Regions from separate parts of the Homo sapiens genome. Here region 2 is linked to region 1. The links come from fine-mapping of genetic effects on gene expression. A gene starts in region 1. The other region holds a variant in brackets. All regions are shown on one strand. Distances are between the middles of the regions.

The links.
Region 2: its variant is fine-mapped to the expression of GPIHBP1 in stomach (GTEx, PIP 0.98).

What each region holds. Positions count from the first base shown.
Region 1 is chr8:143,207,264-143,218,858 of GRCh38, forward strand. It overlaps GPIHBP1 (glycosylphosphatidylinositol anchored high density lipoprotein binding protein 1), which reads left to right and starts at 5,955. Exons shown (of 4, transcript NM_178172.6): 1 at 5,955-6,056; 2 at 6,559-6,687; 3 at 7,750-7,863; 4 at 7,996-9,907. The coding sequence starts at 6,005. The coding sequence ends at 8,255.
Region 2 is chr8:143,445,446-143,457,040 of GRCh38, forward strand. All of the region lies in intron 9 of ZC3H3 (zinc finger CCCH-type containing 3), which reads right to left. Among named protein-coding and RNA genes, the nearest start is that of MAFA, 21 kb to the left of the region's middle. RefSeq lists an enhancer at 4,194-4,488. The variant G/A (reference allele first, on the strand shown) is at 5,767.

The DNA.
Region 1 (11,595 bases):
CCCTGCTGGGCCCTCACCTCTGCTCCTTACTTCCCCCTCCGGGGGCCCATGCTAAAGTGCGCAGGACAGTGCAGTATACAGGAGCTTTTGATCCTCAAGTGGAGCAGCCCTGGCTTTGACTCCCAGACCCCTGTTTCCTCCGGGTCGTTGTGAGCCAGAATAGAACAGGCATCAGATGAGGGCTGTGGGCAGTCAGAAGGGGTGTCCTGTGGCACAGGGGCAGCATCTCACCCAGGCTGGGGGTACAAGGGGCTGATGTGCACACTCCTGTCCTGGGCCCCCAGGCTGGCTCTGGAGTGCGGCTGCCGGGGATCGCAGGCTGGCTCTGGAGTGCGGCTGCCCAGGACCAACTGTGTCTCCCTGGAGTGTGGCTGCCTGGGACCAACTGTGTCTCCCTGGAGTGTGGCTGCCCGGGACCCACTGTGTCTCCCTGGAAGGCTGAGGCTCTGAGGTTGGGTACCATTTCCAGCAGGTGGCTGGATATCATCAGGGTATCCCACCCTGGGGCTCACTGCATCCTGGCCCTCGAGCTTGGGGCCTCTCCTCACCCACCTCACACCCCAAATCCAGTTGGATCCAAAGGACCAACTGTGAGAAAGCCATTGCGGTGGCCCGGGAGGCCCTGCGTCCCCATAGTCACTAGAGCCACCTCGACACTTGGTGCAGGTGGTCAGCTGCCCATCACCACCTGCGGGCAGAGGGAGGCCCCACCCAAGACCACCTCCCGTGGCCTCCTCCCTCCCCTCCTCCTTGCTTCCCCCACCTAACCTCCTATCCTCTCCCCTGCCCCTCCAGTGGGGCCACTGTGGAAAACACTGGAAGTTCTGCCTCCATGCCTGCCAGGAGTCTGAGTGGGACATCCCAGTGACGTGGTCCTGATGTGCAGAGGCTGCCAGGAGGCCCTGTGCCACCCCCAAGGCTGGGGGCCCACGCCATAGCCTGGGGGGGCTCCTGCCTGCCCTGGGCTGCACCTCTCTGGCTTCTCTGGTAGCTGCTCTCCCTCCACACACCCTCTCCCCGCCGCTGTGGGTGAGTGCCTGCCGCTCACCCACCCACACACAGATCCCACCCTGAGCTCAGCCATCAAGTTCCTGCCTTCCAGGGACTGCAGGGCCCCAGGCCTCTCATTCGCAGGCCTCTGCTGGGTGGCAGGGCCCAGGGGTCGGCTTGAGCAGAAGACATGGCCCTGCAGATCAGTGGCCAAACGTGGACCTTGACAGAAGGCGAGCCCAGCGGGCAGTCTCCATATGAACACACAGCAGCAGGCGCAGATCCTGCCTTCTCCTGTTCCTGCAGAAAGCAACGTGCTGGGACACTCAGTCCTCGGCTTCCTCCGCTTCCTGTTTTTCTGATCAGGATGTAAAGAGCTTCTTCACTGTCATACAGCTGCAAAGTATCCCTGCATCGTTATTTTTAGTCTCTTTCAATATTGTGAAATTGCTACATTGTTTTTAACATTTTAACAATCTCACTGTGAAGGAGATTGATTTCTAAACGGATAAAATAAATGATAGGAACAATGTATTCCTTGCTCTTGCATTTTTCCAAGAGGGGGACCCAGTACGGCCATAGGGGGATGTTAAAGCCAAGCCTTGAATCCCTCCGAGGGCACCGAGCTAGGGGTGGGTACAGGAGTGCCGCTGTGGAGAAAGGTCTCTGGAGAGGATGGTGCCTGGGCCCTGCCTCTAGAAATCGAAGATGGATAGTGGCAGGAGGCAGCGGGGGTGGGAGCTTGAAGGACCATCTGAAGCTCTGCTAAGCGGAGCTAGACAGAGATCAGTCACCCTCACAAGTGGGGGACAAGAGGGACCCCCTTGGAAGAGCAAGGGAAAGGAGACTCTCCAGGGTTATGGTGGTGGGGCTGAGGGTGTCTAAGGACTAGGAAATGGAGCATAGAGGGTTCCAGGTGCAGAGCAGCATGGAGGGGAGCTGGGAGGCCAGGGAGGGTACCTGAGTGAACCACACGTGAACGAGTTAATGAACGAGCTTCTGGAACCAGGATGTGTTTCCCTCGTGGGTTCTAGGGGTGCCTGGGAGCTGCAGGACCCGTGGGAGCTGCTCCCCCTGGCCGGCCCGCCCACCCACAGCTACCTCTGAGTGCTGGATCCCAGGAAAGAAAAAGGGCTTGTACCTCAGTGCACATGGTGGGCAGCCTGCTCAGCCTGGCACTGTGGGGTCATCAGAATCAGAGAGAGCCGGGCACAGCGACTCACTCCTGTAATCCCAGCACTTTGGGAGGCCGAGGCGGGTGGATCACCTGAGGTCAGGAGTTCAAGACCAGCCTGGCCAACATGGTGAAACCCTGTCTCTACTAAAAATACAAAAATTAGCTGGGCGTGGTGGTGCGAGCCTGTAATCCCAGCTACTCAGGAAGCTGAAGCAGGAGAATCGCTGGAACCCCGGAGGCGAACATTACAGTGAGCCAAGATCCTGCCATTGCACTCCAGCCTGGGCGACAGAGTGAGACTCTGTCTCAACAAAAGAAATAAATAAATAAAAATAAGCGGAGAGTAACCCCAGGGGAGGAGAGTCTGGACTCTGCTCTAAAAACAAGCCCCTCCCTCTGCCAGACTCAGGTTCAGTGAGACAAGAGAAGGTTGGCTGCAGAGAGGGCAGGAAGGAGCTCAGAGCAGGGAAAGTGTTGCAAGGGCCAGCACATCTGCAGTCTGCATCTGCCCCAAAAGGCCCTACTCTCCCGGTATGGACACCCTACACTTGCCCCTCAGTCAGAAACACTTGCCCACCCTTCCTTATAGAAAAACTCTGCTCACCCCTCAGGCCCAGCCCCAAGGTGCCCTCCTCCCAACGCCTCCCTCATTCCAAACCCAATCTCACGGCAGGCTGCCTCCCAGAGATGGCAGTGCACAGGTCTGGATCTGACTCGAGCTGGTGTCAACACGGGGGAGGGCGTACAGAGTAGGACGCGCAGGCCCAGGACAGGGCCACACAGCCCCCCAGGACAGCAGAGCCCATGGCCCCACCTGGGCATGATGCCAGCATGGACCCTGCCTGCCGAGCCCCGCCCCCACATGTCACCTAGGCAGGATGGAGTGTGGATGGCCAGGCATCCCCTGTCCACAACCAGCACCAAGCTCTGAGCCCAAGGCTGCCGCTGCCAAAAAGAGCCACGTGAGTCATGCAGGCCCCACCGTGAGAGGAGGCCCAGAGAACCGCTGTGTCAGAAGGGCCAGCCCCACGAGCCAGCAGAGCAGGCAAGTCCAGGCCCCAAGGCACAGAGGTCTGTGGGCAGGGAGCGGGGGTGGCCGGGCTGCCCTTCAACGGTGCCCTGGGGTGTGCGCATGGCTCAGGGAGGAAGCCTGGGCCTGGAAAGGCGGTTGAGCCCAGGGGCGCAGGTGCAGGCTCGAAAATGACCCATGCAGCTGCCATCAGGACCACCAGACCTTAGCCCTGGCCCTGGGGGACCACAGCCCTGCCCTGAAGGTCTTAGGCATCATATCTTCACCCTGGAGTGTCTGAGAGGTCATGACCTTGCCCTGGGGGCTTGAGGGAGGCTGCGTGGTGCCTGGGTGGGATGAGGGGGTGGGCTCCACATACAGAGCCCACCACGCCTACCTGCCGGCTGTAGGCAGTGCTGGGGAACCAGGTGTCTGCCACTGCGGGTCCCCTTTCACACCTGCGCACCATCCCAGGTGGCACCTTCTGTAGGGGCTGGACCAGACCCACTAGCCTTTCCGGGGCGGGACAGAGGGAACAGCCTCTCAGTGGCGAGCACTAAATTTAATTCAATCTGCGAATCAAATGTGCTCTGATTGTCCCTAGGTGATTCTCGCAATAAGCACTTGCCTGGGCTGGGCAGTTTGCACCTGGGCTGAAGAGGAGCTGGGCCCAGAGGGAGGCAACGTGCAAGGGCCTGGGCCCCTGTGGAGGGGAGGCGGCAGGTGGAGGCCCCTTGAGAATCCCAGTAGCGCCCTTCCTAGGAGCAGCTCCTGCAGCACTAGATTCAAGGGCCTGTAGCGGTAGCCGGGGCGGGGCGCGGGGGAGGTAGGGCAGCAGGAAAGCGGGGCACCAGGGAAGAGGGGCGACAGGGAGGCGGGGCGTGGGGGAGGAGGGGTGAAGATGACGGGAGGCGGTGCACGGGGGAGGCGGGGCACAGGAGAGGCGGGTCGACAGGGAGGTGGGACGCTGGGGAGAAGGGGCGAATGGGGGCGGGGCGATGGGGAGGCGGGGCGACGGGAAGTAGGGGCAGTGGGGGAGGCGGGGCATGGGGTAGACAGGTGTGGGGGAGGCGGGGCACCAGGGAAGCGGGGCGTGGGGGGAGGCGGGGCGTGAGAGAGGCGGGGCAGTGGGGGAGGCGGGGCGTGGGGGGAGGCGGGGCAGTGGGGGAGGCGGGGCAGTGGGGGAGGCGGGGCGTGGGGGGAGGCGGGGCAGTGGGGGAGGCGGGGCAGTGGGGGAGGCGGGGCAGTGGGGGAGGCGGGGCGTGGGGGAGGCGGGCCGAGGGCGAGAGGGCGCAGGGAGGCGGGTGGGGGTGGGGCCACGCGCGGAGGGGCAGGGAAGGGCGGGGCGGGGCGGGGCGGGACGGGGCTGGGGGGGACAGGCATCAGGTATGAAGAGTTTGGGGCTGGCGGGGCGTGTCCGGCTGTGGCGTGGGCACCACTATGGGAGACCCTGGCTTGGCAAGTGACCTTGCAGCCTTGGCTGGGGAAGGGCTAGATGCTGGGTGGGTGCCGGTAGAGTGGAAAGAATGACAGGTTCAGGTGAATTAAGGAAGGATGGTTGACTCGGTGGCTGGGACATTAGAGACAGGTATTCCCAGCCTCAGGCGCTGTCCTAAGCCCAGCAGGTACTGACCCTTGATGGTCACCTCACCCTATGAGGGAGCTGAGGCCTGGGGAACCCAAGGGGCTAGTCCAGAACCCACAGCCGGGGGAAGGAGGAACCGGGTCTTAAACCCAGGTAGCTCACTCCAGAACCAACTCAACCTCTGTTACAGGTGGCCGGCCAGAAAATGCCCCACCCCACCCATTGACAGTCGGGGAAACTGAGGCCTCAGTAGGTGAAGTGCCTGGCCCAAGCACCAAGGCACACAGAGACGCTCAGGCTTGACCCTGGCTCCGGACGTCCAGCCCCTGCCGCTGCCCCACCCCTCTGCTGCCCTTGGGAGAGGGGCAGCTCAGAGCCTCGACTCTGCACTCTGCATCAGCACCCCCCAAGGGCTTGGGTGGGGTCTTGAGAGGAGGGGGTGGCCTCAGGGAGCGACCTGGGCTTTCCAAGCCTCTCCCAGAGCAGCCCGTCTCTCACACAAGGCCAGAAGGCAGGTGGGTGCTGATGGCTTTCCCAGCAAGAGACCGAGGGGGCGGGCCCCCAAGAGCTCCAGAAAGCTCTCCACCGGACACCAGCAGGAACAGCACTGCAGATGGAGCAGCAGGGGCAAAGACCCGAGGTGATAGTGAGGGGCAGCCGGGAGGCCTTGGGCCTAGCAGTGCATTGCTGAGTGTGGGTGAGGAGGAGGTGAGCACGCAGCCTTAGCTTGAGGGCATTGACTGTGTTTTTACTTAAATGCTCTTAAAGGGGCCTGGGTGTGATGCTGACTCTAGGATGACGATGCTTGGCCAGTGACCAGCAAATAGAGGGTCTGTGACCCCAAGGTCCTGTGACTATGGAGCCCAGACATGGGGTTGAGGGGTGTCAGGCATGGCCCATTCCGGGGCGAGGCTCCCTGCCCTGCACTGCAGGGCTGAGGCACTGAGCGGCAAGCCAGGCGAGGGCCAGCACCACCTTCCACCTGCCGTGGCACGGGTGCACAGGACGTTCCAAGGCCAACCACAATGACTTCTCCTTCCCCTCTGGCCCCAGATGTCCTGGAGGGAAACAACAGTCCCTGGCCTGGCGCCTGGAGCTGGGGACCAGTGTGAGGCCCATTGTTTGAGGCTGGAGCTGGTGGGGGCCACTAGGAAGCCCACGGCAATGCCCTTCATCCCACTTACCGCAGCTCCAGAGCCCTGCGGGAGGACTCAGAGTCAGGGACACAGCAGCGTCCGGCGAGATGAAGGCGCTCGGGGCTGTCCTGCTTGCCCTCTTGCTGTTCGGGCGGCCAGGTGCGGGGCAAAGGGTAACCCTGCGGTGAGGGGGCAGCAACAGCAGTCCTGGAGCACAGGGACCTCCAGGGACCCCCAGCAGGGGCTTAGGAAGAAGGAGGGGATGAGGCTGGAGTCCCCAGCCCAGAGCAGCATGGATGGAAGCTGGCCTGGGTCCCCGAGAGTCCCCAAATATCTGCGCCCCTGTTTATGTGGGGTGCGGGGAGGGGCTACCATAAAGGGCCAGCCCACAGCAGCTGCTGTTGTAACTACAATGCCAGGGCACACTCGGCTGCAGGACAGTGAGTAGGGTGAGTAGGGTAGTAGGACAGTGAGTAGGGTGAGTAGGCTGCAGGACAGTGAGTAGGGTGAGTAGGGTGTTCAGGGTAGGGGCCCTCCCCAGCCACCCTGGGGCCCGAGGATGGCTGGGGAGGGCCAAGGAGTTGGGGGCACGATGCTTGCCCAGAGCAGGTGTCCTCCATACCCGGGTAGCTGAGGCTTACAAGCATCCCTGCACGGCCAGGGAGAGGGCAGACACAGCAGGAGGAAGAGGAAGAGGACGAGGACCACGGGCCAGATGACTACGACGAGGAAGATGAGGATGAGGTGGAAGAGGAGGAGACCAACAGGCTCCCTGGTGGCAGGAGCAGAGGTATGGCCGCCCCAACCCCAGAGCCCTGCTGCCTGATCTGCCTGGAGCATTCTGGGCGGGGCTGTGTGATGGAAGCCAGCAGGCCACAGTCCTGCTGTGAGCTTGCCTCCAGCAGAGTGGGGGACACTCAGTACACCCCTCACTGCTGCTCACCATGACACTCAGTTGCCTTCCAGAGTAGGGAACAGGGGAAGAAGCCACCAGCTGGGAGGGTCAGTGGTGCCAGGATGTAGAGGTTAAATAGGAGTTCACCAGGCAGAGAAGGGCTCAGTGGGGGCCTAGGGTGGAGACACAAGCACAGAGGCCCCAGGGTAGGGTTCAGTTTTGTGGGGCAGAGAGAGCAGCAGGGTGGGCCGGTCCTGTACAGGGGAGGGCTGGATTGGCTGCTGCGGGCTGGGGAGCCAGGGAACCGCTTAGAGCAGAGCAGAGTAGGGCTAAGAAGAGCCCACCCTCACTGCCCACCTGACACACCCCTACACGTGGGCCACCCTCTGCTCTCTCCCATCCCGAGAAAAGCAGAGCAAATCGCCGCATCCAACCCGAGGGCCGGCCCCTCCCTAGCCAGGGACCACAGCGTGCCCCACCACACACAGCCCCTCCCTAGCCAGGGCCCCCAGCATGCCCCACCACACACAGCCCACCCCCCTCCCAGGAGCCCCAAGCCTGCCCTCAGCACGAGCCCTGCCCCACACACCCACGAGGTGTCCCCTGTGAGGCCCTCCTCTGCCAGGCCTGGTGCTCCTGGAGGCAGGACTGAGTCAGACCCACCTCCAGGTTTCTGTGACCACGGCAGGAGCCTGGGCAGCATTGTCGCAGGACGTGAGTGATGATGGGAAGTTCGCCCTGCCTGACCCGCAATCCCTTGCCCCCTAAACACACAGGCTCACGCACACAGCACAGCTTACAGGACCAAGTCAGGGGTCGCCCGCCCATCTGAGCAGTGGGTGCTGGAGGCTCACCAGGCTAGGCTTTGGGAGCACAGCTGAGAACGGGGAGGTGGACAGGGACGTGGGAGGAGACCCTGGGGGGCCCGGCCTCGGCCTGAGCCCGCCTTGTCCCCAGTGCTGCTGCGGTGCTACACCTGCAAGTCCCTGCCCAGGGACGAGCGCTGCAACCTGACGCAGAACTGCTCACATGGCCAGACCTGCACAACCCTCATTGCCCACGGGAACACCGGTAAGTGGGCGTGGGGCCGCAGCACATGCACCCCCAGGCGGCGGGAAAGCCAGGGGCCCGGAACAGAGCCCTGCAGAGCCACCTCAGAGACCCCGCCCATCCTCAGCACTTGTTCCCCACTCCCCTTCCCAGAGTCAGGCCTCCTGACCACCCACTCCACGTGGTGCACAGACAGCTGCCAGCCCATCACCAAGACGGTGGAGGGGACCCAGGTGACCATGACCTGCTGCCAGTCCAGCCTGTGCAATGTCCCACCCTGGCAAAGCTCCCGAGTCCAGGACCCAACAGGCAAGGGGGCAGGCGGCCCCCGGGGCAGCTCCGAAACTGTGGGCGCAGCCCTCCTGCTCAACCTCCTTGCCGGCCTTGGAGCAATGGGGGCCAGGAGACCCTGACCCACGGCCCCTCCCCACCCCCACCCGGCTCACCCCCGGCCCTGCCAGCACTCTGTCTGGTACCTTCCCCTCCTGCCCCTGCACCAGCTTTGGAGAATGGATTTGGAGTGTCTTGGGCGATCCAGCCAGCGCAGGCCCCCCGGCCCGGTTGCTTCCTCAGTTCCCGGCTGTGTCCTTGGTGTCCTTTCTCCACCACCTGTGAGCAGCAAGACTGCCGCACGTGGGCGCTGGGTCCAGACCTCGGCTGCCACGCCCCAGGACCTGCAGCCCTCATGGGGGCTGGGGATCCCCATCAGCACAGCCAGGCAGAGATGATACCCACCACACACCTGGGGGCCCCCACACCCAGTCCTCACCCTTAACTTCTGCCATGGGAATTCCTCCATCTGCAGCGGTCACACGGGCCCACCCTGCCCTTCCCCAGGTCGGCCTCTCCGCTGTCTGGAGGGAAGGGGATTTGGAGGGAGGCTGTCGTCGCCCCCAGGAAAGACGGGCCTGGGGGAGGCGGGACAGTGGGAGAGGCGCGCTGAGGATGAGAGGGCACAGGGAGGTGGGTTGGGGTGAGGCCACATGCGGAGGGGCGGGGCGGGGGGGGGCTGGGGGGACAGGCACCAAGTATGAAGAGGATGGGGCCAGCGGGGCCTGTCTGGCTATGGCGTGAGCACCGCTATGGGAGACCCTGGCTTGGAAAGTGAACTTGCAGCCTTGGATGGGGAAGGGCCAGATGCTGGGTGGGTGCCTGTCACCTTGAGGTGACCATCTAGGGTCAGTACCTGCTGGGCTTAGGACAGCGCCTGAGGCTGGGAATACCTGTCTCTGCTCTAGCAGAGGCTAAAGCAGGCTAGAGCAGTGGAGGGGTGGAGTTGATGAAAGGAGAGGAGTAGATGAGATGGAATTTTTCCAGCCTCATCCTGGCCTGCCCTCTAGACTCCAGTCCCCAAGCCCTCAGCCTAGTGGGTGTCATGGATGGATCTGGGGGTGTCAGACAGGCTACCCTGTGCCAGGGAGGGGGCAGAATGGGCCTGCAGCTTCCTGCAGAGGAAGCAGGACTGGGTAGCAGAGCCGGGAAGGTGGGTGGCCCATTACAGGGGGGTCCCCAGGGTGTCCTCTGGCAGGGCTGTGACTGCTGCAAGCTCTGCCTTCACCAGTAGCTGGTGCCAGGACAGAGCTCTGGGACAGCAGGCAGAGGCCGAGCCTGGGCCACAGCTCAGCCACTGACTTGGGTATCAGTTTCCCCTTCTGAGAAGTACAGAGTGAGACTTAAAGAACCCCTAGATCCCCACCAGTTCAACACTCCATTAACTGGGAAGCCCAGAGTCCTGTCCGGCCTGCCAAGTTCATCCTGGTGGACAGCGGGAGGCCTCCGCTAACTGTTCTCTTCTTTTCCTTATTAATAAAACACACAATGCCTAGCTGGGGGGTCGGAAGGCAAATGCCCTAGATGGTGGGGTCACGTCTTTCTCCTTCTCCTTCCTCCTTCTGCTGGCTGAAGTGATGACTGGAGCTCAGCAACCACTTTGCACCATGAGGCAGCACTGAGCACGGTAGGGCAGCCTGGTGAGAGGGGCCTAGCTCGCTGCCGACAGAAGTCACTGCCTACCTCAGGGTCCCCTTACCTGGGTGGGAAATAAATTTCTGCTGTGTTGAAGCTAGTTATTTGGGGTGTCTGTTACTTGCATTTTCACACTGACACATGCACATGTGTGCACACGAACACGCACGCCTACAGCCCCACTGGAGCACAGTGCAGGGGTCAGGCTGCCTGCTTCGAATCTAAGGCCCAGCCCTCCCCAGCTCCATGACCCTGGAAGCCCCTTCACCTCTCACTTGGCTCCGTCCAGCGGGAGTCCTAGGAGAGCCCTCCTTGTGGGCTACAGTGAGGATCCTCCAGAGTGCTGGAGCACCACGTGTCAGGGCTTACAGCCCCGTGCCTGGCAGAGAGCAAGTGCTCGACAAATGGGAGCTGTGGCCATCAGGACACTTCTCATGACCCCACTCTTCACTTGCCATCTGTATGTGTGAACATAGCACATGCCCCACCTGAGCCAGCCCCAGACCCTCATGATCCAAAGAAACCTCGTTAACCACACCCGACTTAGAAACACTGGGCGACGTAACCTGAGTTCGCCAAATGCTTCCTTCAAACTGATGCCTTAAAGCCCTGCACAGCTCTGAGTGGACAGACCCCCACCCCTCCCGGCCCACACCACCTCCTGGCGTGCAGTCTGAAGCCACTGGCTGTAGGGCCTGCCCCAGCCTTGGGGTCCTGTCTCTTCTCCCAGGGTCCTGGGCCCTGCCAGCAGCTGGGTCCCTCATCCTTGCCCCTGAGGAAGCAGAAAGCCCAGTCAGACTCTCCTGGGGCTCTCACCTGACCTGCCCAAAGGCACGGGAGCTGTGAGTGTCTCCGCAGCTATAGAAGCCAGAGAGGGGCCAATACAAGAACAGAGAAGCCCATCAGCCAGTACCCATCCCCACACCACCCCCACACCCCCTCAACACCACCCCCAACACCACCCAACACCACCCCCACACCACCCACCACCACCCACCACAAGCCCCAACACCACCCACAACTCCACCCCCCACACCACCCCCAACACCACCCCCAACACCACCCAACACCACCCCACACCACCCCCACACCACCCAACACCGCCCCCACACCACCCACCACCACCCACCACAAGGCCCAACACCACCCCCACACCACCCCCAACACCACCCCCACACCACCCCAACACCACCCCCAACACCACCCCCACACCACCCCAACACCACCCCCAACACCACCCCCAACACCACCCCCAACACCACCCCCACACCACCCCCACACCACCCCCACCACCACCCCAACACCACCTCACACCATCCCCAACACCACTCCCAGCAGCTCACAGAGGGCTTTCTCCTGGCACCCACTCAGGCTCTGAGCAGGAAGAGAGGGTATCGTGCTTAGCTGTCTACGGTGGGCCCTGTCACAGCCCCCCGAGGTACGAAAGCCTGCAGCTGCGACATGAGGCTCGAGCTCAAGGTCACACAGCTGGGCGGTACAGATCCAGGATCCAGTCCCCGGGCTTCCTGCCAACCGCACCCAGCTTCCCAGAGGTGTCCCAGGCTCCAGGACGCCTCAGCTGGGGAGGAGCTGGATGCCAGCCAAGAGCCAGCCAGATTCCCAGGCCAAGTCGAGTCTGAGCCAGGCAAGTCAGCGGTGCCAACGGGCGGATGGTCACAGCCAAGACACCCTGGGCCCCGTCTCAGAGCCCAACGCATGCTGTCAGTCTCAAGAGTGAACATAGAGGGACCTCCCTTTCTCATCCAGCCCAGCAGCAGGGAGACTGGG
Region 2 (11,595 bases), 240 kb after region 1:
GCGGGAGGGTGGGAGGATTGCTTGAGACCAGGAGTTCGAAATCAGCCTGGGCAACACAGCAAGACCCTGTTTCTACAAAAGATTAAAAAAAAACAAAATTAGCCAGGTGTCATAGCATGTGCCTATAATCCCTGCTGCTTGAGAGGCTGAGGCAGGAGGATTACGTGAGCCCAGGAGTTGGAGGCTGCAGTGACCTATCATCACAACACTGCACTCCAGCCTGGGTGACACAGTGACACCCTGTCTCTGTCTCTTAAAAAAAAAAAAAGACATTAAAAGGGAGGGTCTAACTGAAGAAATACAGATGCCATCCCCACAGGCTGGCAGCTCACTGCTCTGGGGACAGATGCCCATTCCACCAAACCGAGCTACAGATTCAAGACAATCCCAATCAAAATTCCAACTTTTTTTTAACCTGACAAGAAAAATCTAAAATGTATTTCTGGGAGAATAATGGTCAAGAATAGCTGAAATTCGTTCTAAAAAAGAACAAGGTGAAAGAACTTGCTTTATTATTATGAAGCTCAAATAATTCAGAGCATGGTTTGGCTCAGGGACAAACTGACCAATGAACAAACAGAGAGCCAGAAGCAGAGCCCGCATCCACGCAGACCTCACGACAGGAGGGAGGGCTGCACCGCACACCCGCTGGAAACAATGGGCTTTTCGAGGCCAGGCGCTGTGGCAAAATGAAACTGGACCTCACCGCACACACCACACAAGAAAATCACCTCCAGCTGGATGAAAGTCTCAATGTGAAAGGTAAACACAACAAAATATTTAGAGGCAACTGAGCACAATCTGGTGTAGAGAAGAATTTCTTATTCAAGACACTAAGGGTGCAAAATGTAAAGAAAACTATAAAACTATGTCCGTTAAAATCAAGAACTTCTGATTTTCAACACGTCACAAAGAAATGCAAAGATAAACCACAAACAGAGAAGACATGTGACTAACAGATTAAAGTCCAGGACATTATATGTATTTTTATGTTTGTTTATGTTTATAAATTCCCTCTGAGTCAGTAAGAATCAAACAACCCAAAAGAAAAACACCCTCACCCTCACCAAAAAGATTCCAAAAATCACCAAAAAGATTTTCCAGAAGCGAAGACACAAAGGCCTTAGAAACATGGGAAAAGGTTTTCCACCTCAGTTTACATCAGAGAAATACCAATTTAAAATATCAGACAGCTTTTAATCCTTCTAATGGTCAAAAAGTAAAAAAAGGTTGAACACAGCCTTCACAGAAAGCACAGAGGCCCGTCCAAGCTGCCGAGCGTGACAGGCCAGGTGGCCTGGGTGGGCTCATGTTTCCAGCTAAGCCAATGTCCACACTGCCTGGCCATGCACTGAGGCACTGCTTCCCACAGGGGGCCCTCTGGGGCCTGGACTGGGGCCCGCAACCGGAGAACTGTCTTCAGATAACTAATTGGTCGTCTGCCTTTTCTATCAGCACCAAGACAGTGGAGAGCCTCAGGTGAATCTCCCAGGCACCAGGTCACCTTTTCCCCAAGCCAGCCTGGCCCTGGGAGCATGGTCCATAGGGAGACTCTTCCGGCCTGTGCTTGCGGAGCTGACATGAAGGGCACAGGGACTGGGCCAGGCTCCACGGCGCTCTCTTCCTTGGCCAAGAGCAGGCTGATTTGCCCAGCTGGCTTGACCACAGCAGCTCCCTCACCACCTGTGCTGATTCAGCCCAGGGCCTGAGGGGCCCCTGCCCTACCACAGCACCCAGCCCTGCTTAGTTCTCTCCTGGGGGTGAGGCCCTAACCCCACAGCCAGCAGCACCTCTGATGGCTGTGACGCACCCTTTGTCCCCAGCAGAGTTGCCAGCTTCCTTCCCACTGTCCAAAATCAAAGCTGCCCCCTCTACCACCACCAGCCACCTTGGAGGACGTGTTCCAGACACTTCTATCCACGCTCTCCATCTTTCTCACGCTCCTCTGCATTCCAAAATCAGTGACTTCATGGAATGTAGTATCTTGGAACAGAAAACAGCATCAGGGAAAACTGAGGAAATCTAAATAAGGTCTGGAGTTGACAGTTACACCACACCAAAGTGGATGTCTCAGTTCTGACAGCGAGATGGTACATGAGTCCATTCTCGCACTGCTATAAAGACATACCTGAGACTGGGCAATGTATAAAGAAAAGAGGTTTAACTGGTTCACAGTTCACAGGCCGTAGAGGAAGCATGGCAGCATCTGCTTCTGGGGAGGCCTCAGGAAGCTTCCAATCATGGCAGAAGGTGAAGTGGGAGGGAGGCACTTCACACGGCCGAGCAGGAGGACGAGAGAGAGCGGGGCAGATGCTACAGACTTTTAACTGACCAGATGTCATGAGAAGCCTACCACAAGAACAGGACTCGGGGGATGGTGCTCAGCCATTAGTAACCGGCAGGGATGGCCGGGTGTCGTGGCTCATGCCTCCCACCACTTTGGGAGGCTGAGGCGGGTGGATTGCCTGAGGTCAGGAGTTCGAGACCAGTCTGGACAACATGGGGAAACCCTGTCTCTACTAAAAATACAAAATTAGCCAGGTGTGGTGGTGCATGCCTGTAATCCTAGCTACTCAGCAGACTGAGGCAGAATTGCTTAAACCCGAGAGGCGGGGGGTTGCGGTGAGCTGAGAGAGTGCCATTGCGCTCCAGCCTGGGCAAAAAGAGTGAAACTCTGTCTCAAAAAACAAAACAAACAAACAAACAAAAAATTAGCCAGGCGTGGTGGGGCATGCCTGTAATCCCAGCTTCTAGGGAGGCTGAGGCAGGAGAACCGCTTGAACCTGGGAGGCAGAGGTTGCGGTGAGCCAAGATAGCACCATTGCACTCCAGCCTGGGCAACAAGACTGAAACTCTGTCTAAAAAAAAAAAAAGAGACCAGGCAAGTCCTTTCTACCTATGAACCCATAAAATCAAAACAAGTTAGTGACTTCCAAGATACAATGGAGGCATAGGTATTGGGTAAATACTCCCATTTCAAAAGGGAGAAATCAGCCAAAAGAAAGGGGTACAGGCCTTATGCAAGTTCAAAACACAGCAACGCAGTCATTAAATCTTAAAGCTCCAAAATCATCTCCTTTGACTCTACATTTCACATCCAGGGCACAGTGATGCAAGGGGAGGGCTCCCAAGTCCTCAGCCAGCTCCGCCGCCATGGCTCTGCAGGGTTCAGCCCCCACAGCTATTTTCAAGAGCCAGCACTGAGTGCCTGCAGCTTTTCCAGGTGCATGGTGCAAGCTGTCGGTGGATCTACCACTCCAGGGTCTGGAGGACAGTGGCCCTCTTCTCACAGCTCCACTAAACAGTGTCCCAGTGGAGACTCTGCGTGGGGGCTCCAATGCCACATTTCCCCCTAGCAGAAGTTCTCTATGAGGGCTTGACCCCTGCAGTAGGCCTCTGCCTGGACATACAGGCTTTTCCACGTATCCTCTGAAATCAGGCAGAGGCTCCTGAACCACAACTCTTGCACTCTGAGTACCTGCAGGCTTACCACTACGTAGAAGCTTCCAAGGCTTACTATGGTTTGCACCCCCTGAAGCAGTGACCAGAGCTGTGCCTTGGCCCCTTTGAGCCACAGCTGGAGCTGGACTGGCTGGACACAGGGACGCAGATCCTGGGGCTGTGCAGGGCAGTGGGGCTCTGGGCCAGGTCCAGGACACCATTCAGTTCTCCCAGGCCTCATGCCAGTGATGGGAGGGTCTGACATGAAGGTCTCTGAAATGCCTCTGAGGCTTTCTCCCCATTGTCTTGGTTATTAGCACTTGCCTTCCTTTTAGTCACACAAATTTCTATAGCCTGCTTGAATTCCTCCCCTGAAAATGGGCTTTTCTTTTCTACTACATGGCCAGGCTGCAAATTTTCCAAACTCTATTTCCCTTTTAAATATAAGTTCCAGCTTGAGGTCATTTCTTTGCTCACACATATGAGCACCGAATGTCAGAAGCAGCCAGGCTACACCTTGAACACTTTGCTGCTTAGAAACTTCCACCAGATTGGTTGTGTACAGTGGCTCATGCCTGTAATCCCAGCACTTTGGGAGGCCAAAACGGGTGGCTCACCTGAGGTCAGGGGTTCAAGACCAGCTTGGTCAACATGGTGAAACTATGTTTCCACTAAAACCCCATCTCTACCAAAATACAAAAATTAGCTGGGTGTGGTGGTACATGCCTGTAACCCCAGCTACTTGGGAGGCTGAGGCAGGAGAATTGCTTGAACCCAGGAGGCAGAGGTTGCAGTGAGCTGAGATTGCGCCACTGCATTCCAGCCTGGAGCAAGACTCCATGTCAAAAAAACAAACAAAACAAAACAAAACAAAACCCAGGAAATTTCCACCAGATAGCCTAAATCATCATTCTCCAGTTCAAAGTTCCACAGATCCCCATGGCAGGAACATAGTGCAGCCAACCTCTTTGCTAGCACATAACAAAAGTAACCTTTGCTCCAGTTCCCAATAAGTTCCTCATCTCCATCTGAGACCTCCTCAGCCTGGACTTCACTGTCCATATCACTCTGAGCATTTGGTCACAACAATTTAACAAGTCTCTAGAAAGTTCAAAACTCTCCTCATCTTGCTGTCTTCTTCTGAGCCCTCCACACTCTTCCAACCTCTGTGGGTTACCCAGTTCCAAAGCTGTTTCCACATTTTCAGGTATCTATATAGCAATGCCTCACTCCTCAGTACCAATTTTCTATATTAGTCCATTATCGCATTGCTGTAAATAAATACCTCAGACTGGGTAATTTATTTCTTTATTGAGACGGTGTCTTACTCTGCTGCCCAGGCTGGAGTGCAGTCACACAATCTCAGCTCCCTGCAACCTCCACCTCCAGGTTCGACCGATTCTCATGCCTCAGCCTCCCAAGTAGCTGGGATTACAGGCATGTACCACTGTGCCCACCTAATTCTTCTATTTTCAGTAGAGATGGGGTTTGGCCATGTTGGCCAGGCTGATCTTGAACTCCTGGCCTCAAGTGATCCACCCACCTCGGCCTTCCAAAGTGCTAGGATTACAGGTGTGAGCCACTGCACCCAGTCAAGACTGGGTAATTTATGAAGATAAGAGGTTTAATTGGCTCACAGTTCACAGGCTGTACAGGAAGCATGGCAGCATCTGCTTCTGGAGAGGCCTCAGGGAGCTTCCAATCGTGGCAGAAGGCAAAGGGGAGGCGAGGCACTTCACGCGGCTGAGCAGGTCGAGAGAGGGGGCTGGAGCAGGAGGTCGAGAGAGGGAGGAGGTGCTACACACTTTTAAACAGCCAGATCTTGTGAACATTCCATCACAAGAATAGCACTGGAGGATGGTGCTAAACTATTATAAACCATCCCCATGATCCAATCACCTCCCACCAGGCCCCAACTCCAACATCGGGGATGATAATTCGACATGAGATTTGGGCAGGGACACAGGTCAAAGCACATCACACTGCTAGCTGTGGATCTGCAGGACGCTCCTGGCAGGGGAGGCTGGCTGAGGGTGTATGGGAACTCTCTGTGATATGTCTGCAACTTTTTGGTAAATCTAAAATAATAACAAGTATATTAAACACAGTAAGTGACTGGATGCTTTCTACCCTGACCAGTGAACAAACCACCAGAGAAGGCCTGTGGGGCTGCTGTGGGGGACTGCGGGTGCCCACAAGGACAGCAGGGAGGGGCTCCTGAGAGGGAGGCCAAGAGCTCAAAGCACATCAGCCAGAACCCAAAACCTACAGACACGGGAACAGGTGCTCCCAGAGCAGAAGGCAGGAAGCAGGACAGGAGCCCGG[G/A]GAAAACCTAAAGCAGGAGGGAAATAATAAAGAGCAATGACAGAAGTCAATGAAAAAGAAAAGGAGCAAGCAACAAAGAACACTAGCAAAACCAAAAGCTGGTTGTCTGAAAAGGGCAATAAGACAGACATGCCCCTGGCAAGACTGTTCCCAGAAACAAGTGAGAAAACGCAAATTAAATACAGATGAAAAAAACTCTAGACGCGACAAAGGATGTTGTAGACACACCGACATGCACCCATACGTTGAAAACCTCAGTAAAACGGATCCACTTCTGGGGGAAAATAAGCCAAAACTGGCATTAAAAAGAAGTAGGCCGGGCACGGTGGCTCACCCCTGTAATCCCAGCACTTTGGGAGGCCAGGAGTTCAAGACCAGCCTGGCCAACATGGTGACACCCTGTCTCTACTAAAAATATAAAAATTAGCCTTGCATGGTGGTGCACACCTGTAATCCCAGCTACTTGGGAGGCTGAGGTGGGAGAATTGCTTGAACCCAGGAGACAGAGGTTGCAGTGAGCTGAGATCACACCACTGCCCTCCAGCCTGGGTGACAAAGTGAGACTCTGCCTAAAAAAAAAAAAAAAAGAAAAGAAAAGAAAAGAAAAAAGGAGGAGCTTGCATTGCATTGCTTGGAACACAGACCCAAAGTACCAACCTACCATCCCTGTACTTCCCGCTAAGTGCCACCGTAACAAACCCAAGCCACCTCTGGCTGCGGAGAAGGTGCTGATGGAAGGGATCGGGGCACGACTGGTGCTGGGTGCCCTTGGGCTGCTTCCTGCCCCATCCAAGACTTGGAGTCAAGGAAGCCACAGCCCAGAAATGCCCAGAGGCACAGGCAAAGGGCAGCCCAGCAAGACAGAAGGTCTCGGGCAACAGCCATCTATTCCAGCCAACACGCAAAACCACTGCACCCCCAGCCAGATCAGCAAAGGCTGAGGAGGGAGCCTGGACTCAACCCTGGCCAGGAGGCCCTTCCCTTCCTTGCCGGGGTGGTGAAAAGCCAGGACATTCACCCCTTCTCCATCCCCCACGGAGTCAGTGGAGGCCATGTGGAAGAGGCACTGTGGAACTCCTTCCCCCAAGGCAGGGAGGGAAGGTTCAGGGAAGGTCTGTTTTCCACACCACCCTCCACAGTGTCAATGAGGCCAAGTGCAGGGAGCTGGGTTTCCACTCCTAGCTGGCAAGAAGGAGGCAGCCCCTCCACCCAACAGCCAGCATGACTAGGCTCCCACAGAAAGTGGCTGCTCACACTAAGAACAAGGGAGGCTCCAAGCTCGGTGAAGAGGGGCAGCGCCAACGCTGACAGACAGGGCGTCAGAATTATTTCATAAAGACAGAACAGCATCACAAAGACACTTCTACATGCAATACAAACATGCTGGAAACAGAAGAAATAGAAAGTATCAACAGAGAAAAAGAAGATACAGTAGAACCAAATGAAAATTTTAGAACTAAAAAATACAATAACTGAAATAAAAAACTCAGTGTGTGGCACAACAGCTGAATGGATGAGACAGAGAACTGGAAGACAGAATAACAGAAATTAACCCATCTGAACAACAGAAAGAAAATAAGGTTTAAAAAATGAACAGAGCCTTCGGGACCTTGGGACCACAACAAAAGACCTAACATTCATGTAACTGGAGATGCAGAAACAGAGCAAAAAGAACTCAAAGAAATAATACAAACTTTACAAATTTGGTAAAACACATAAGCCTATAGATTCAGGAAGTTGAGCAAACCTCAGACAGGATAGACCAAAGACATCTACCCCAGATGTCAGACAGGATAGACCAAAGACATCTACCCCAGATGTCAGACAGTGAAAGTTAAAGACAAAGAAATAATCTTCAAAGCAGCCAGAGAGAAACTACATTATGTTTGTTTTTTTGAGACAGGGTCTCACTCTCTTGCCTAGTGGTACAATCATAGATCACTGCAGCCTCGACCTCCAGGGCTCAAGCAATCCTCCCAACTCAGCCACCTGAGTAGCTGGGACCACAGGCGCATGCCACCATGTGTGACTAATTTTTGTTTTTTTGTTTTTTTTTTTAAAGAGATGGGGTTTTGCCATGTTGACCAGGCTAATCTCAAACTCTTGGGCTCAAGCAGTTTGCCCACCTGGTTCTCCCAAAATGTTGAGATTACAGGAACGAGTCACAGCACCCCACAGAAACCACATTTTACCCACTGGGGAAAAATTCAAACAACAGTGGATTTCTAACTAGACACCATGGAGGACATAAGGAAGAGGCATAACATTCTTCAAGCTCAAAAGAAAGAACTGTCAACACAGAATCCCATATTCAGTGAATTATCCTTCTGGAATAAAGGGGAAATCAAGACATTCTCTGATGAAGAAAAACAATGTCACCAGCAGTCTTACCCTAAAAAGTGGTTAAAGTTCTCCAAACAAAAAGGAAACAAAAGAAAAAGGCTTGGCACAACAGGAAGGAATAAAGAACAAGATAAGCAAAAATATGGATAAACATACCAGACTTTCCATCTCTTCCCCAGTTTTTAAAATTATGTTTGATGACTGAAATAAAAATTATAACTGTGTCTGTTGTGGTTCTAACTTCTGTAGAGGAAGTATTCCAGATGGTTATAAAAGGGGAGGTTAAGGGAGATGAGGGAAGGTAGGGTTTCCACACTTCACTCAAACTGGCAAAACGACACCACCAGCAGACGTGGATCAGTCATGCAAATATAATATAATACCCAAGGTAAGCACTACAAAAGCTATATAGTGGTCCTCCCCTTTCCACTGTTTCACTCTCTGCAGTTTCAGTTACCTGAAGTCAACTGTGGTCCAAAAATATTAAATGGAAAATTCCAGAAATAAACAATTCATAACTTTTTCTTTTTTTTTTTTTTTTCCCAGATGGAGTTTCACTCTTGTTGCCCAGGGCTGGAGTGCAGTGGTGTGATCTCGGCTCACTGCAACCTCCATCTCCCGGGTTCAAGCAATTCTCCTGCCTCAGCCTCCCAAGTAGCTGGGATTACAGGTGCCTACCACCACACTCAGGTAATTTTTTTTTTTTTTGTAACTTTAGTAGAGACAGGGTTTCACCATGTTGACGAGGCTGGTCTTGAACTTCTGACCTCAGGTGATCTGCCCACCTTGGCCTTCCAAAGTGCTGGGATTATAGGTGTGAGCCATCGTGCCTGGCCAACAATTCATAATTTTTTTTTTTTTTTTGAGATGGAGTCTTTCACTGTCACCCAGGCTGGAGTGCAGTGGCGCAGTCTCGGCTCACTGCACTGCAAGCTCCGCCTCCCGGGTTCACGCCATTCTTCTGCCTCAGCCTCCTAAGTAGCTGGGACTACAGGCGCCTGCCACCATGCCCAGTTAATTTTTTTTGTGTGTGTTTTTAGTAGAGACAGGGTTTTACCGTGTTAGCCAGGATGGTCTCGATCTCTTGACCTCATGATCCACCTGCCTCGGCCTCCCAAAGTGCTGGGATTACAAGCATGAGCCACCGCGCCCAGCCAACAATTCATAAATGCTTAAGTGCATGCTATTCTGAGCAGTGTGATGAAATCTTGCACCGTCATGCTCTGTCCTGCCCAGGACATGAATCATTCCTTTTTCCACACTGTATACACGACCTAACATTAGTCACTTAGTAGCTGTCTCCCTCATCACACTGACTCTTGTGGTACTGCAGCACTTGTGTCCGGGTAACCCTTATTTTCATAAAAAATGGCCCCAAAGTGCAACAGTAGTGATGCTAACAATTTGGATAAGAGAAGCTGTAAAATGCTTCCTTTAGGTAAAAAGGTCAAAGTTCTCAACTTCAGAAAAAAAAAAATAGGCTGGGCGTGGTGGCTTACACCTATAATCCCTGCACTTTGGGAGGCCAAGACGGGTGGATCAGGGGGTCAGGAGTTCGAGACCACCCTGGCCAACACAGTGAAACCCCATCTCTACTAAAAATACAAACATTAGCTGGGTGTGGTGGCGGGGGCCTGTAATCCCAGCTACTCAGGAGGCTGAAAAAGGAGAATCACTTGAACCCAGGAGATGGAGGGTGCAGTGAGCCAAGATTGCACCACTGCACTCCAGCCTAGGTGACAGAGCTAGAGTCCATCTCAAAAAAATAATAATAAAAATAAAAATACAAAAATTAGCCAGGCGTGGTGGCGCGTGTCTGTAATCCCAGCTACTTGGGAGGCTGAAGCAGGAGAATCGCTTGAACCCGGAAGGCAGAGGTTGCAGTGGACAGAGGTTGTGCCACTGCACTGCACTCCAGCCTGGGTGACAGAGCGAGACTCTGCCCCCCCTCCCCAAAATAATAATAATAATATAATATTCTGAGGTTGCTGAGATCTACAGTAAGAATGAATCTTCTATCCAAGAAATTGTGAAGAAAGAAAAAAAGAAATTAATGTTAATTTTGCTGTCACACTGCAAACTGCAAAAGTTAGGGCTACAGTGTGTGATAAACGTTTAGTTAAGATTTAAAAAGGCAGCCGGGCGTGATGGCTCATGCCTGTGATCCCAGCACTTTGGGAGACCTAGGCGGGTGGATCATTTGAGGTCAGGAGTTCAAGGCCAGCCTGGCCAACATGGTGAAACCCCGTCTCTATTAAAAACATAAAAATTAGTCAGGCGTGGTGGTACACACCTGTAATCCTAGCTACTCAGGAAGCTGAGGCAGAAGAATTGCTTGAACCCAGGAGGCGGAGGTTGCAGTGAGCCAAGATCAAGATCACACTACTGCACTCCAGTCTGGGCGACAGAGTGAGACTCTGTCTCAAAAAAAAAAAAAAAAAAAAAAAAGACTTAAAAAAGCGTTTGATTTGTGGGTGGAAGATAATAGAAACATGTTCCAAATGATGGAATTGGGTTCCATGACATCTATGGGTTCAGGTATCCATGAGGGATCTTGGAATGTATCCCCCACAGAGAAGGGAAGACTACTGAATAAAGATCTATATTGAAAAACACTATAAGTAAATCAAATAAAAATTCTAAAAAGTGTTCAAGTAACCCATAGGAAGGCAGGGGGAAGAAAACCCACAGGGAAAAAAAGAACTAATAGAAAACAAAATAAATCAAATGATACACTTAAGCCCTAATATAGCAATAACCACATTAAATGTAAATGTCCTACATATATCAACTAAAAGACAGAGATTGGCAGAGTGAATTTTAAAACATGATTGAACTATCTGCTGTCTACAAGAAAGTCACTTCAAATATGACACATATATACATTTAAAGTAAAAAGAGAAAAAAAGACATGAAAACTTGATTCAAAGAAAACAGGCGTGGCTATATTAATATCAGAAAAAGATGACTTCAAAGCAAAGAAAATCATCAGAGACAGAAACATTATATAATAATAAAAGAGTAAATCGATCAAGAATGCATAGTAGGGCCACACTTATAATCCCGGCACTTTGGGAGGCCAAGGAGGACCACTTGAGGCCAGGAGTTGAAGACTAGCCTGAGCAACATAGCAAGACCCTATCTCTACAAAAAAAATTTTAAAAGTAGCCAGACATGGTGGTGCATGCCTGTAGTCCTAGCTACTCAGGAGGCTAAGGTGGGAGGATCGCTGGAGCTCAGGAGTTTGAGCTTGCAGTGAACTGTGATTGTGCCGCTGAGCTACAGCCTGGGCAACAAAGCGAGACCCAGTCTCTAAACAAACAACAACAACAACAACGAAAAGAATGCACAGCAATTCTAATGTAAATGCACCAAACAAAAAAGCTGTAAAATACATGAAGCAATAACTGTTAGCTATGAAAGGAGAAACAGACAAATCCACAATTATAGTTAGAGACTTCAGCACCTCTCTCAACAACTGAAAAC